2 separate regions of the Homo sapiens genome follow, and region 2 is linked to region 1. A link means that fine-mapping ties the variant in region 1 to the expression of a gene that starts in the linked region. Tissue or cell type: whole blood. Region 1 holds a variant in brackets; the other region holds the start of a gene. All regions are shown on one strand. Distances are from middle to middle.

The links. PIP is the estimated chance that this variant, and not a neighbour inherited with it, causes the effect.
Region 2: STMN1 starts here. The variant in region 1 is fine-mapped to the expression of STMN1 in whole blood (INTERVAL, PIP 0.92).

Annotation. Positions count from the first base shown.
Region 1 is chr1:25,968,041-25,976,141 of GRCh38, forward strand. It overlaps PAFAH2 (platelet activating factor acetylhydrolase 2), which reads right to left. Exons shown (of 11, transcript NM_000437.4): 9 at 6,440-6,610; 10 at 4,518-4,672. Among named protein-coding and RNA genes, the nearest start is that of PAFAH2, 26 kb to the right of the region's middle. The variant T/G (reference allele first, on the strand shown) is at 3,453.
Region 2 is chr1:25,902,876-25,910,976 of GRCh38, forward strand. STMN1 (stathmin 1) reads right to left here and starts at 3,544. Exons shown (of 5, transcript NM_005563.4): 1 at 3,514-3,544; 2 at 1,789-1,863; 3 at 766-938. The coding sequence starts at 1,801. MIR3917 (microRNA 3917) reads right to left here and starts at 3,579; the gene lies at 3,487-3,579. It overlaps LOC105376885 (a long non-coding RNA gene), which reads left to right and starts at 3,675. Exons shown (of 2, transcript XR_947102.1): 1 at 3,675-3,771; 2 at 4,161-5,368. RefSeq lists silencers at 2,483-2,777, 2,557-2,976, 3,367-3,456, 3,477-3,786.

The DNA of each region.
Region 1 (8,101 bases):
CTGTAATCCCAGCTACTCGGGAGGCTGAGGCAGGAGAATTGCTTGAACCTGGGAGCAGAGGTTGCAGTGAGCTGAGATGGCAGCTACTGCCTTCCAGCCTGGGTGACAGAGTGAGACTCTGTCCTAAATAAATAAATAAATAAATAAATAAAATAAAGAGGGAAAAATCACTGGCGCAATCATGTTGAGCAGACAGAAGAGGATGGAATCTTGTGTTGGGGGGTTGGCCTTAATGAGGCAACTGAGGTGGGAACTCTAGTAACCGAAAGGAAAGCTGATTATACACAGGAAGGTGGGGAGAGGTGGTGTTGGGAGTCTGAGGAAGTGCTGGTTGCTTCCATTTTCTTGGTGAAGTGGGAGGCAAAGTTAACTGAGAGACAGGATAAGGGAAGAGGTGTGAGAGGTTCGAGGAGAAAAAAGGTGTGAAATAGTCTTCCAGGAGAGTGGGAGAGGAGAGTAGGTGGAGACAGGAGCTGCATGGAGTTAATATGAAGGAAGCACCAGTCTTCATAGAAGATCATATCCCCAGAACAGCCAAACAAGTGCTCTCAGAAGGAATTTTTTTCAGAGTGAGAGGTTCAGCTGAGCCACTTACAGCCTATTTTAGTTTCCCATGTGACAATGTACTGTGTGCCTACTAAAAGCTTTTCTCTCTTTGTAAAGCTAATTTGCCCAAGCCCACAGCCTTGGCCTTTTTCTTTTCTTTTGAGACAGGGTCTCACTGTGTTACCCAGGGTGGAGTGCAGTGGCACAATCACAGCTCACTGCAGCTTCAACCTCCTAGGCTCAAGCAATCCTCCTGCCTCAGCCTCCTAAAATGCTGGGATTATAGACGTGAGCCACTGTGCCCAACTTTTTCAGACTGTCTTATCTCTTATCACTCGGATTACTGCAAAAGCCTCCTACCTAAGAGCTCCCTGCCTCTCACCTTGCCCCATCCTCCACAATGCACCAGACTGTGAACACAAGTCTAATCACAACATTCACCTGCTTAGAACTCACCAGGGGCTCCTGACAGCCTGTGGAATAACATTCAAACTCACTTCAGCAAATCCATAGGCTTCTTCCTCTGGCTTCTGCCCACTTCTCTATCTTTGCCTTTCAACAATTCACTCTCCTGAGCTCCAGATACACTAAACACAGTTTCCCAATCCTGACCAGGCCCACTCAAGCATTTATGCCTTCTGTCCAGAAGACCCTCGCCCTTTCCTGCCTGTGAACCCTCCACTAAGATTAAAGGCAAACATTGTGTTGTCAAGGAAGCCCCCTTTCCTAGCTGTTCTTCCTCTCCTGTCAAAGTTAGGAGACTGTCCTCCGTGTGGACAGTCTAAAGACTGAGTGCCTACTGTGGCCATGGAACTTATCACTCTGAATTGTCACCAGAGTCACCGCCAGCATAGTGAAGTGACTAAGGGCATGGGCCTTGGAATTGGCCAGTCTAGGTTACATATTGGCTTTGCCACTTGATAACCAGATAACCTTAAAGAAATTACTTAAATTTCCTACGCTTTGGTATCCTCCCCTGTAAAATGCAGTTAATAATAAAGGTATCTACTGGAAAGGGCTGTCTCTAGAATTACACGCGATAAAGCAGGAGCAGAAGGCCTGGCATAAAGTAAGTCCTCAAAAATCTTCTTTCAGTCTAAGTGCCTCCTACCTCCCATTTCCATGTCTGCTAGCAGGTTTCTAACAGTGAGTATCTTAGCTCAACGGGTATTGCTTTTAAAGGGAGCCCAATCGTGCCATGGTGGGCTTCCCATCATCTTTCATCTTAAGCTTTTATAATGACATGGTGCCTATGAGGGGACAGGGGAAGGGGGCTGAGGACCAGGCAGTCAGGCGCCATTAAAGTCTTGAGACATGGGTCCATTCCCTGCTTGCCAGGTGATAAGAATGATGCCCTAAAATCTCTTATTGACCCTAAGGTCTCCAAACACAGGCTGGAATCAAGGCTCACGATGTGTAAGATGAAACGAACAGGCAGAAATATAAAAATGAAAATTTACTTCCAAAAAGTCAATAAATGCGTAAGACAGATGTGTTTTAAATGCAAACTCAATCCAGGCTGTTTGTTGTGCACTTGTGAGGAATGTGAATGCACTCAGGTCATCCAACTAAAAGGCTAGTGTCCAGAGCACAGAGACGGCCAGGCGCGATGGCTCACACCTGTAATCCCAGCACTTTGGGAGGCCGAGGCAGGTGGATCACTGGAGGTTAGGAGTTCGAGACCAGCCAGGCCAACATGGTGAAACCCTGTCTCTACTAAAAATACAAAAAGTAGCTGGGTGTGGTGGCACATGCCTGTAGTCCCAGCTACTTGGGAGGCTGTGGCAGGAGAACTGCCGGAGAATCGCTTGAACCCAGGAGGTTGAGGTTGCAGTGAGCTGAGATCACACCACTGCACTCCAGCCTGAGAGACAGAGTGAGACTCCGTCTCAAACAAAACAAAACAAAACAAAAAACAGAGCACAGAAGAGACTGTCCAGGATGGCACCGGTCAGACCACATCTAATACATTATAGTCAAGTCAGGGCACCACAGTTTATCTATTTATTTTATTTTTTGGAGACGGTATCACTCTGTTGCCCAGGCTGGAGTGCAATGGCATGATCTTGGCTCACTGCAGTCTTGACCTCCCAGGCTCAAGTGATCCTTCCACCCCAGCCTCCCGAGTAGCTGGGACTATAGGCACATGCCACCATACCTGGCTAATTTTATTTATTTTTTTGCTGAGATGGGGTCTCACTATGTTGCACAGGCTGGTCTCAAACCCGTGGCCTCAAGCAATCCTCCCATCTCAGCCTCCCAAAGTAGCTGGGATTACAGATGTTGAGCTACCACACCCGGCCAGGGCACTACACTTTAGAAGGGGCACCAAAAAACAGCGACTCCAAAGGAAGGGGATAACAAATAGCAACATGGGGAATTGAACCGGGACAGGTGGAGGTACCACGAACATTTAGTTTAATAAACAGAACACTCAGAGAAGACTAGCATAGGTGACTTCAAATATCTAGGGAACTGCCAGGTGCCGTCTGAGGCTTCTATGGGTAGCTCTTGAGGGGTTAACCTGGGCAAGTAGAGGAGGGTTACAAACTAGGAGATCTTGCTCTTAGGTTAGAGTTAAGTCAAACCTTTGAAATTCAGACAAGCCTGGCTCCTTTCTCATGGAAACTGCCCTGCACACAGCACCTGCTGAGGGATCAGAAAGGGACCTCTGATGCAGAGAGCTCAGAGCCTAGCTGGGACGGGGCTACAGTGTGTTCTGGTGGGCAAAGAGGAGCTGATACAATCAAATTGCCTCTCTTGGAAATCTGTTCAAAGAAATCCAAAAAAATATGGCAGTGAGCAGTGGGAGCTGAAGATGAAAGGATGCCGCAAGCTAAAGGGAACACACTCTGAGTGGTTCAAGCCGAGTGAAGTTATGAGGAAGCAGAAATGGAATAAACAGC[T/G]GCTATCAGTGAGAGAAAAACCACAGAGCAGAAAAAAAAATGCATAACGGAACAAAGAAAAAGAGATGTCGTGAGAGGAAGACACAGAGAGACTGAACCCATGAGACAGACGGAAAGAAAAGTCAGTCCTGCCAGCCACCCTGATTTCTATAACTGCACTCCCACCCAGTCCAGGTGCACTCTCATAAACAAACTCCCCTTTTTTTCTCAAGCTAAGTTTGTGAACCTCTAGTCTTTGTAACCAATAAAGCTTAATAAGAGGATGCCTCCTCTGGGTGGAAGCTGGACCATGGACCTCTGCAGGCCTCGCCCTTTAGCTGCTCTATGACTGATGACATTATTCATAGTCCTTCCATGCTTTGTTTCTTTAAAACACTTCCATAAATTTAGCCCGTTATCCTCATAAACTCCCCTACAATGCAGATAAGGTGGGCAATAATGAGTCTGGGTAAGGAGAGAGGTGGTGGAGTAGAGAGAGGTGAATACTCCATTTACAGGGAGGAAACCAAGGTTCAGAGAGGTTAAATGACTAGGCCAGGTCATTCTGCAAGTAAGATAGTCAGGATCTCCAAACTTTCAGTTAAGTATTTTTTCTTATTTATTTGTTTAATTATTTATTTAGAAACAAGGTCTTGCTCTGTTGCTCAGACTGGAGTTCAGTGGTGCAATCATGGCTCACTGCAGCCTAGACCTCCTAGGCTTAACTGATCCTCCCACCGTAGCCTCTCGAGTAGCTGGGACTATAGGTGTGTGCCACCACACCCAGCTAATTTTTTTTTTTTTTTGGTAAAGATAGAGTCTCACTATGTTGCTCAGACTGGTCTCGAACTCCTGGCCCCAAGCCATCCTCCCACCTCAACCCACCAAAGTGCTAGGATTACAGGCGTGAGCCACTGCACCTGGACTTGTTTTTTCTGTAATTCTATGTAAGTCTCTCCTTCACTCAGGTTTTCCATTTGCCATAAATCTCCTTCCCAGATCCCAGACATGTCAGAGTTCTCACTCTGCTGCAAGGAAATCTAAGGGACCCCACAGCTGCCCCAAGAGCCCCAGTTTTCTCCTTACCGAGGTGCTTCTGCAGGAAGGCCAACATGGCCCGTACCATAACCTCCTGCCCTTCATAGGGGTCCAGGCTCCCACGGGTTTCAGTGGAGAAGAATTTACCAATCAAGTTGCCAGTCACAAAAGCAAAGTCAGTTTGACTCCGATGAACAGAACCACTAGGGGAAAAGAAAAACAACTGGCAGGGGTCTGGCGGCTAGGGCATACAGATGTGTGTTAGGCACCTACTATGTGCAAGGTGCTTTTCATGTATTATCACACTTTATTTTCACAGCAACCTTGTAAGGGAAGTATTTTCCCCCTTGACAGAATCCAAGGAGAGAAACTATCTGCTTAGGGTCAGGTCATACAAGTAGTTGGGGATGGAGTTAGGATTTGAAGCCAGATGTGCTTGGCTTCAAAGCTGGCTTGACCCGTAGACTACAATGCCTGGCAGTGCAGGGAAAAGGTTGAGCTAGCAGGAGCAGGGACAGGAGCAAGGAGGTGGGATCTGTGGCACGTGGCATTTCTATGTTACTACAATCTATTAGCTGTGGCTTTTGCCTGGTGAATTTCAAACATTCACAAAACAAATGAAGTTATTCTTCAGAACTGTACCACAGAGTGAAGAGGGAAAAGGAATTACTTGCCTTTATTTAAACAATCAGAAAAGTAAGAGTGAGTGCTTTGTAAAAGGGGGTTTCTGGGTTGGAACTTAAGTCCTTTGGCAGAAAATAAATTTAATTTGCAGGTGAAATCCTTGCTAGGTTAATTTTGGGCTAAATTATTCATAACTGAATTTACTAGTCAATTCAGTGAGAGAAAGAGAATCTAAATGCTAAAGTATTTGTCTGATATCACAGAAAAACTGACTTTAAAAAATGCATTAGTTAAGGCACACAAAAAGGTGTATAGAATAATATATGGGATACTTGAGTATCCAGCACTCAGTTGAATAAACGATACATTGCCAGGCGTTAAGTCCCCTGAGTGTACCCCTTCCCAACTGGCCTCACCTCCTTTCCCTCCTGAATCTGACCTGGGGAAGCATTCAGGCAGTGTCTACTGCCATGAAACCTAACTGAACGAGGAGGGGTGGCCCTAGGAAAGAGGGCCAGGACCAAGATGAGCAAGGGAAGAAGCCACTGGCCATACTGCCGGCCCCAGTGCTCGAGGGCTCTGGATTTGGCACTTCAACTACCCAGTGACTCCAAAGGTCCATGGTATGCAGTCACTTGTCATTCTGCTGAAATAGGAACCAGATGGATCCCTGGATCCTGTGTGCCGCTGGGCTCAACTGCAGGGCAGGAGCAGTCCGTGAGATCTCAGCCCGACATCTGTGGCTCAATATCACCTCCCACATGTGGAACATTTCTTAAAGTCACTAAAAATGTTTTTTTCCCTGTGAAAAATGGCTCCCAAAAGAAAACTAACTGATAGTGCTGATGATGGAAGTGAAAAAATGTGGCTTCTCTTGACCAGAATATAGAAGGTTTATGGAAGACAACATATGTTAACAGTGATCTGTGATTCTGGTATTCATGAAGGTCTCTAGAAATGTGTCTGGTGAATATCAAAGGTCTACCATATTCACACTCTTCCAAAGACCCAATAAAATTCCCAAATGAGGCTAGCAATCTCTGGAACTCATCCAAACCCACACCACTTCCTTTCCAACACCCAACCCCATAATGCCCTTTTTCAGAAAGTACTAGGTAAATCCTGTCATAAAGTCAGATAAACTATGGAATAAATCACTGTAGATGGAGCTCAGTGGAGAAGAAGGACAGACAGAAAATTCTAAAAGAATTTAGACTTTGCAATTCAGGAAGTATTCAGGTATCCTACTAATGGGTAGAAAGTTTTGGGTAATCCAGAAGTTAAGGGCACCACAGCAAGTGGCAAATGGAGAGGGCCCTGGGATCACGACCTTGTGGTTTACTCACAGAACGGTTATGATCCTAGACTGTTCATGCTGGGCACATATCTTCTTCATCAAATTGACACTCTCCATTGTCTGGAATTTCTCAGTATTGATAAAGAACACAGGTCCTCGGGCCTTGGGGTAAAAGTCACGTTCCAGAGGAAACATCCAAGCATCCAGAGCCACCGCACACCTGGAATAGGACCAGACATTTGGAATTGCCATGCGGATCCCAGGCAAGAATAGTTAGGGTGGTGGAGGGAAGGGCGGAGTTCCTCCCTCTGGTGGGGTAAAGGCTCAGAAAGCCAGGAGGGGGGTACCAGGGCCCACGGCCTTCAGTCAGGATCTTAGGTAGGGATCACTTTTACTTTTCACCAAAGATCCTTCTAGATTTCAAACTCTCTGAGAACAAGGATCAGATATCCCTCTTCTCCTGGATCTACTCTCAGGTGACTGACCTGAGTTCCACAGAATGGCACTTCATTCATTTAATTATTCATTCATTCAACATTCATTGAGTGTCTACTATGTGCTTTGGATATAGACATAAATGAGTGTTCCTGCTTTCAAGGAGCTCCCAGTCCAGCAGGGAAGACAGAATAGACAAAGTGGCAAAACAATATAACTTAGTGCCCTGATTGCACAAGGTTCTATGTGAGGTCAGGAAAAGCCTCCTTGGTGCCAACAGCAAAACCATGTCACCAAGAGCAATATTATGGGCCTTAAGATTTTGCCATTTCCTTCCTCAGACCCCTGAAATGCTCCTCTATTCTTCTCCATCTCAATAAAGGACAATCATCTTCCACTCAAATAATAGATACACAAATGAAAAACCTTGGGCTGGGCATGGTGGTTCATCCCTGTAATCCCAGCACTTTGGGAGGCTGAGGCAGGAGGATCACTTGAGCCCAAGAGTTCAAGACCAGCCTGGGCAACATAGCAAGACACCATCTCTTAAAAAAAAAAATTAAAAAATTAGCAGGGCATGGTAGCATGTACCTGTAGTCCCAGCTATTTGAGAGGTTGAGGCATCACTTGAGCCCAGGAGGTTGAGGCTGCAGTGAGCTGATTGTACCACTGCACTCCAGCATAGGGCAACAGAGCAAGACCCTGTCTCAGAGGGAAAAAAATAAGAAGAAAAACCTGGATTTCCTCTCTTTCCTTCACCTCCCACATGACCAAATCCTGAAAACTCTAAGACATATCCTGACTCCAATCACTTCTCTCCATCCCACTATCTCAATCCTGATGTAAATTTATCATCTTTCACATTGACTCTGAAACAGAATCTCTCTAATGAGCCTCTAGGCTTTCAGTCTTGTCCTGCTACAATCCATTCTTCACATAGTAGCCAGAAGGATCTTTTAAAATGTAAGACTGATATTTCTCTGTTGAAAATCTTCAACAGTTTCCCATCATACGTAGAATAAAATATACACCTCCTTACCCTGGCCAGATGACCCTGTGATCTGGCCCCTGCTTCTCTCTCTGATCACAGCTTAAATTGCCTCCCCCTCACTCACTACGCTCCTCCCACCCTAACACAGCAAGCTTCTTTCCACTGCAGGGCCTTTGCATTAGCTATTCCTGCTGGCTGGAAAGATCTTCCTCTAGATCTTCACACGACTGGCTTCTTTGCCTTCCCAGTCTTGATTTCACTTTCTCAGAGACATATCAGCCTGTT
Region 2 (8,101 bases), 65 kb before region 1:
CCTTTTGTGCCTCACTTGCCCCAGCTTTAAAATCAATCCTATCAGGGTTGTTGAGAAAGGGAGTTAAATGAAAAGTTATGTACAGTTGTTAATGAGTAACATTGAATGGAAAGAAACACACCAAAATGTTAACACTGGTTGCTTCTCGGAAGCGGGATAATGAATACTTTTAATTTCCATTTATAAATTTCTGTATTTCCCAAATTTTCTACAACTAGCATATTAATATTTATTGATTCTTCTGATTAGCTTTTAAAGATAGTTACTTTATAATAGAATTGTTTAGATAAGAGAAAAGCTACCATGATACCAGCTGAGCAACACAATCACACTAGCAATTTAAAATGTTATTGTACAGCTCTCAAAAAACAAAACCAAAGTGCCAAAGAATCATCTGGCAACAAATCTTTTCAAAGAGGAAGCATGAGAGAAGCATGAGCTTTGGTTTAAGATAGACCAGGGCTTGAATTCTGACCCCAACACTTACTAGTTGTATGACTGCAGAAAAACGACTTAACATTCCTGAAACTGTTTCTAATTTCCATTATTTGAGGCAACACCATGTATTAAAGGAGAAAAATATAAACAAAGGAGCGGGCATGTAACAGGAGTTCAATAAATGAGGACTGGTATTTCCTTCCAGTCACTGGCATATGTAATAATCACAGTGTAGCTACAATTCTGTTTTCTTCCTGTTATAGAAATAAAATTGATCTGCCCATTACATAAATTAATATCCTGCTTTCTGTGAATTGCTTCGTTTACCTTGCGTCTTTCTTCTGCAGCTTCTAATTTCTTCTGAATTTCCTCCAGGGAAAGATCCTTCTTCTTTGGAGGGGAAAGGGGGAATTCTGGAACAGATTCTTTTGACCGAGGGCTGAGAATCAGCTCAAAAGCCTGGCCTGAGGCACGCTTCTCCAGTTCTTTCACCTGGATATCTAGAATTGATTATATTTATAATTCAGAAAACCAGGATTCTCCTGTTCTAATAAACTGTACTATAATTTTCTAAAACCCAAATCAATTTAATGTATTAAACTAGGGCTGATGAGGAAAGTTGTGTTTTTTTTCCCCTTTTTATTCCTATCAGTCTACTGACACTAGGGGAAGATGTATTTGCAGGCAAGATATTATTATCTAAATACCATTTCCCAAGGCCAGGTACCATGGCTCATGCCTATAATCCCAGCACCGTGGGAGGCCAACATGGGAAGATCCCTTGAGCCCTGAAGTTTGAGACCAGCCTGGGCAACAAAGGGAAAGCCCATCTCTACAAAAAAAATTTTTTTTGATTAGGTGGGTGTGGTGGCCCATGTCGATAGTCCCAGATGCTATGGAGGCTGAGGTGGGAGAATCGCTTGAGCCCACTTGAGCTCCAGAAGTCAAGGCTGCAATGAGCTATAATTAAGCCACTGCACTCCAGCCTGGGCAACAAGGTGAGACCCTGTCTCAAAAAAAATAAAAACCATCTCCCAGAAAAACAAAGCTCAACATTTTTGGATTAATAAATACTGTTTTGAGACATCAGTATCTGACAATCGCTTTCATAAACAAAAGACTTGTGCAAACTCCACAATTTTGCTTCAGACTAAGCCAAACTGTCCAATAAACAATTACGAGCTCTCGGCACATTCAAGTGATAATCATTTTTAAATTCTTCTCCTATTCATAAAATAGGTTTTGGTAAGACCAAAACATAAGTGCCAAATCAAAGGCGAAGACCTGAGCCATCTCAATCTAAAATCATAAGCCCATTACAATTTCAGATTTTCCAAATAGATTACCTACCAGAAGAAGCCATGGTGAATAGAAGACAAGCGACAGGCAGTGTATTCTGCACAATCAACTGGGATAAGGAAAGTCCTGAAAATGATTTTCAAAAACATGCAATCACTTTCTTTGCCTTTCTATATGTCATCAACCCAAAAAAATCTCACATCACATCTACATACATCGTCAGAAAAATACGTGGAATAAAGACGTCTAAATTAACCACGAAAAAAATTATCAAAATCTACTAAATAAACATTGGGAAATATGACCTGAATATGATATTGGTTCCAGAAAATCAAGTTAACTGAGCTTTCTCGGTCATAAAACTCTTGGATTTTTAAAATCAGACAAAGTCACAAGGGTGAAGAATTTTTCCCCCATAAACTCTTTAACATTTCACCGAAACTGTAAGAAGATATTCCAGATTCAACTCAACAGTGCCCCCGGAGCCATCTTAATACTGCCTACAACTCATTGTGCAAATGAAATACCCACCCCTGCTTTGTCTGTGTCTGACGTGGTGGATAAGAAAACGCCCAAGCTAATAGTAACCAATAATGTTGAACTCCTATTGTCCCTCAGGTTTAAGCTTCCTTGCCCAACAGCAAGCAAAATGTTTATGAACCTCTAGATTTTGACTTATATTTGCTGCCGTTATGTCATGAAAAATGCTGTATCTCTTGTTGATCTTTTTAACATTATGACTTTTGTAGACGCCAGCTAGTACCAAAAACGTAGGATGACAGGTTCCCAAAAGCTAGGAATTAAAATCAGAGGCAGCGACAAGATTTAAGAAAAGCAGAGAATTAGACGCAGCACCGGACCCAGGATGGGCGTGGCCCTGGTCCGGGCGAGGAAAAGAGGACCGGTCGCCCCCGGCCAATCAGAGCACGCCTTGCGCTCCGGCCCCTGGCCCCGCCCCCTTCCTCCCCGCGCCTTTTCGAATCTCCCCGAACTCAACACCCCGGAGCCCGCGCGCGTGGGAAGGGGAGGGGTGGGCGGGGCTAACGGTCCAATCCGGGTAACTCCGCCCCTGCCTGACTCCCCCTGCGCGGACGCCCCCCCCAACTCCCGCCAAAAACACCTCCAGGCCGCCGCCACCACCCCCTTCACAGTTCAGCGGGTGGGGCAGGCCCCGGGAACAGGCCCCCGGGTGGTCCCGCGGTGAGCTCGCCACCGCCTCCCGCCGTCCCCATGCCCAACCTGCCGCCACCCACGCTGTCCGCGCGTCCGGCCGCGAAGACAGAAGAACCCTCGTGGGGCCCGGGAGCGCCGCCCCTCAATCACCAGCTGCGGTCGCCAGGGGACGGTCGCAGGGAGGGTCGCGGCCCTGGCTGCCCGCAGTTTGGTCCTAAAGCCGCTGGTCCCTGGGGCACCGCCCCGTCCCTTCAGACAATGGGGAACCCGGCGGGGCCCGCAGGGAAGGGAGGGAGGGAGGGAGGTAAACGAGGGCCCACGCCCCCTATTGTCTCCTCGACGGCACCCCGGAGCGGACGCCCGGTGATCGCCCAGCCCCCTGCCCACGAACAGCCGCGCCCCCGGAGAGCGGGGACAAAGGCGAGGCTCCGCCCGAGCCACACACAAAGCGGAGCGACCCCCGCCCACCAACCCCTCCGAGGCCCGCAGCCCCGCCCGCCGCCCTGCAGCAGGGGGTCGCTGCCACGGCCCAGCCCCTCCCGCCGACCGCGTCCCTCTTGCTGGCCTCAGCCAGCCGCCGCCTCCTCCGAGCCCCGCACCCACCTGCTCAGTCCGAGCCGCCTGACCACACTCTGAGCACCAACAGACCCGGGCGCGCACAAAAGCGCCAAACAGAGGCACGTGACCTCCGCGCGGGGCTCCGCATTGGCCGAGAGCGGCGGCACGTGCCGCCCCCGCCCCCCACAACCCGCGTGGAGCGCCGCCCCCCGGGACCCCGAAGCACCTCGGGAAGTGTAGTCCTGTCCCGGAGGGCAGGAGGACAATGCCGGGGGTTGCAGGGCGCCTGGGGAGCATCCCCAGGTGTGGGCCTGGGACTAGGGGGGTGGTCTCGCCGTGGAAGAGGGCGTGGCAGTGGACCCCGGACTAGGTCCGAACCAGCTCCCCATTCTCGAGAACAAGGGCAGGGCGGAGCAGGCGGAGGGCGGGGGGGTCCTTCCCTACCTTTCCAAACTTTGGCCGCCTGGACTCCACCTTGTAGAGCCACATGCCCGCCTCGCCCCAAGGGCAGCACTCGGACAGAGCAGTGCCCCTTCTAGTGCGCCACCCACATGGGTGCCTAAGACGCCCGAGCCCCTGTGACAGCACAATGCCACTCCACGCCCCTGCAGGGCCCCCTGCCCCCGGCACCCTACACCGACACCGGCGTGTCACCCATATTGTGACATCATCGTAATTTCTAATCCACTCAGCCCACAGGTCGCGGGCGTGGCCCTTCCCTCACTGTGTGCGTTCTTGCCAGCATCCTCAGGTTCCCGAGCCGGTGACCAGGGACCTGTGCGGGAAAGCGTGGGGCTCTGGAATTTGATCGCCTTTGGTCTAACAAAGCCACTCAGCTTAAATGCAGACTCCATCTGTTCTTCCAAGCCTTCTGCGGATGATAGGGGAGGAAGAGCAATAGCCGTTCTAGACTACACAGATTGCAGTTAAGTGTTGCTTTTGTTCTCAGAGCACGTGCTCCCCAGAGCAGCACTGGGTTCTTTTTAAAAATCGAAAAAGGAGCCACAAGGTCACTGTTCTCCCTGACCTGGATAGCTCAGAACCTCAGCAAAGGCACAAAGGAAATTGGTCTGACCGTGCCTTAGAATAACTGGCCCTTTCTCTCACAAAAAGGGGAAAAAAATAAATGAAATGAACATGGTCCCCGCCTCCTCCCATTCTCTGACCAAGACCGTGTCCTCGGTTGGTGGTCAATACACCAAGACACCTGCTTTGAGATCTTGACTAAGCAGAAGAGATATCTTTATTTTATTAATGAGCTGCATCTCCCCAAATCAAGAAACAAATGTGACCAACCTTCCTGAAACAACAGTCCTAATTTAGAAAGACTCTCATGCCTAGTTAGTCACCAGGGATGTGCCAGAGATAAAATACAACTAAGGGGTGCCCAAGACAATAAAAACTGGATCATACAAGCAGCAGCACACTACACAAAGCAAACAATTAGCAATGCGCTGTTGCCTGAAATATGCTTGTTGCGGCATTTTTTCCAACAATCGCCCTTGTGTGGGGTCGGCCTCCCCCCCAAGCCAATCGAAGTGGTTTTCACTTAGCCTGTGAGCAGGACCAGGAATAATTCAGATACTGAGCCTTGAAAGGCTTCTTCTCAGACCAAACTTAGCTTCAAAATGGCTAGGTGCTTCCGTCTGTCATTTTTCTGAACAGAATCTCAGACATCATTAGAAAAGTTGGAGAAGGATGGGCATGAGACCCCTCAGGAAAGCGACAGATAGGCAGGCAACACAAATGAGCAAGGAACCCAAGCCCAAGAGGTCCTTACCCACTGAACAGGCTTTTTATCTTGAAGTCTTTGTATTTGATCTGGAGGTTCACAGAGGAAGGTCCCACTCATTTAATGCATTTTTTTAAGTACAATAAATTGCCACACAAAAGTCTCACATTCCTGACTATTAATGTTGTGACAGAAAAAAGAAATAAATCTTTCAAAACACTGATAATTTGAAAGCACTTACACTGCTTCCCCCCACATTTTCTTTCTCCCTAGAGCAGATGTCTATTTCCATGGAAACCATAGCAAGGAACGTAGATGTTAGAACTCATGTTCATTTTTAATCTTTTTTAGCAATGCCACTTGGCTTCTGGGTTTGTTGGGAGATGCCTGGTTCTGCCAGTCTGTGACAATGTTCCAAGCTCCTCACAGCTGCTTGAGGACTGAGAGGGCTGGGTTAAAGTTTCCCCTAGAATGAGCCTTTGAATAAAAAGGTGCTTTTGAGGTGGGATTCCTGTCCTTTTATTATTATTATTATTATTATTATTATTATTATTATTATTATTATTATTTGACTTAAAAAAAATTGAGACAGGGTCTCACTATGTTGCCCAGGTTGGCCTCGAACTCCTGGGTTCAAGCAATCCTCTTGTCTCAGCCTCCCAAAGTGCTGGGATTACAGGCATGAGCCACCACACCCAGTCTGATCCTTGTTCTTTAGGGTGGGGCTGCCTTCCCAAGAGCCAGATCACAGCTCATTATTGTCAGCTTTTGTGGGTGTCCTATATAAGCCTTGGAATAGGAAGGGCTTTCAACTGTAAGGAGAGACAACAGTTTTGCCACTTCACCTTGGAGAGGGGCAGAATCGCCCTTCTCGAAAGCTTCCTAAAACGAACTTCAAGATCCACTCTCTTCTGAAGTGGCAGCAAGGAGTTAATGTTCACATCTTGGAACTGTCTATCTTTGCCCATAAGAATTATTTTTGCTTCTGCTCAGATGGTTTGGTTGGATTGTTATGGAGCTGGCTGTGACTATGGAGCCACACAACGAAGTGGAGATAGGGCAGTCATCCAGCTTATTTGATCTGTGTAGACAGCTAAAGGAGAGCACTTCAGGCTTCAAAGTCTAGAAGGAATGTCTACACTGATCAAACGGCGGGCCAGGCCGTTGTCAGATCTCCTCTCCTGCCAGAGAGCCCGGCAGCCTTTGTTCATTGTTGGGCTTGAGGCTGCAGGGTTTGTCTCCCACATGGCGCCTCCAAGTTCCACAGCTGCTTTCGAGGCCTGTCCTCGGCCAAAGGGTGTCGTGGGAGAGGTTTGCTTGTTGTCCCCGGTCTCTCTGTTCCCTTTGTCTCCTAATCCTCAAGCACTATGCTCTAACACTCCCTTCTCTATTCAAAACCTGTCTATGAGTCTGCTGTTTTACACATCGATCTCCCTCACTAGACCATTAGGTCCTAGAGGGCAGGGTGCTGTCTTTGTCTTGGTATCCCTAGTGCAGTGCCCATCCTCAGGCCTGGCCCAGGATGATGGCGCCTGAATGTTTGCAGAGAACTTTGGGAAAGAACAACCTCTTGGCCGGGCACGCTGGCTCACACCTCTAATCCCAGCACTTTGGGAGGCTGAGGCAGGCGGATCACAAGGTCAGGAGATCGAGACCATCCTGGCTAACACGATGAAACCCCGTCTCTACTAAAAATACAAAAAATTAGCCAGGCATGGTGGCGGGCGCCTGTAGTCCCAGCTACGCACGAGGCTGAGGCAGGAGAATGGCATGAACCTGGGAGGTGGAGGTTGCAGTGAGCCGAGTTCACGCCACTGCCTTCCAGCCTGGGCGACACAGCAAGACTCCGTCTCACAAAAAAAAAAAAAAAGAACAACCTCTCTCATCCTTCTGTGATCTTCTGTCTCTTCTGTGATATTAGACACTTGCACTCTGGGAGTGGTGAGGATTAAATGAAATAATGTAAATGAAAACAGCACAATGCCTGGCACATTTAAAGTGCTGTGCACTTGTTAGGTATCATTGCTAGAGATGTTTCCTGATTGCTATAGATTATTTTATTTTTATTTTTTGAGACGGAGTTTTGCTTTTGTTGCCCAGGCTGCAGTGCAGTGGTGCAATCTCAGCTCACTGCAACCTCCGCCTCCCAGGTTCAAGCGATTCTCCCGCCTCAGCCTCCTGAGTAGCTGGGATTACAGGTGTGCGCCACCATGCCCAGCTAATTTTTTGTATTTTTAGTAGAGATGGGGTTTCATCACGTTGATCAGGCTGGTCTCAAACTCCTGACCTCAGGTGATCCACCTGCCTCGGCCTCCCAAAGTGCAGGGATTACAGGCGTGAGCCGCGGTGCCTGGCCTGCTATAGGTTATTGAATGAGTGAATGACTATTAGACTTTCACCCTTTGATGGAAATTGTAGTTACTGGGTTAACTCTTCCCATGGGGTTAAATTCAATTCATTTAACACTTTATTTTTTATTTTTATTTTTATTTTTATTTTTTTGAGCAACAAGGCTGTTTATTTCACCTGGATGCAGGCGGGCTGAGTCCGAAAAGAGAGTCAGCAAAGGGTGGTGGGATTATCATTGGTTCTTATAGGTTTTGGGATAGGCAGTAGAGTTAAGAGCAATGTTTTGGGGGCAGGGGATGGATCTCACAAAGTACATTCTCAAGGGTGGGGAGAATTACAAAGAAACTTCTTAAGGGTGGGTGACATTATAAAGAACCTTCTTAAGGGTGGGGGAGATTACAAAGTACATTGATCAGTTAAGGTGGGGCAGAAACAAATCACAATGGTGGAATGTCATCAGTTAAGGCTATTTTCACTTCTGTGGATCTTCAGTTGCTTCAGGCCATCTTGATATATACGTGCAGGTCACTGGGGATATGATGGCTTAGCTTG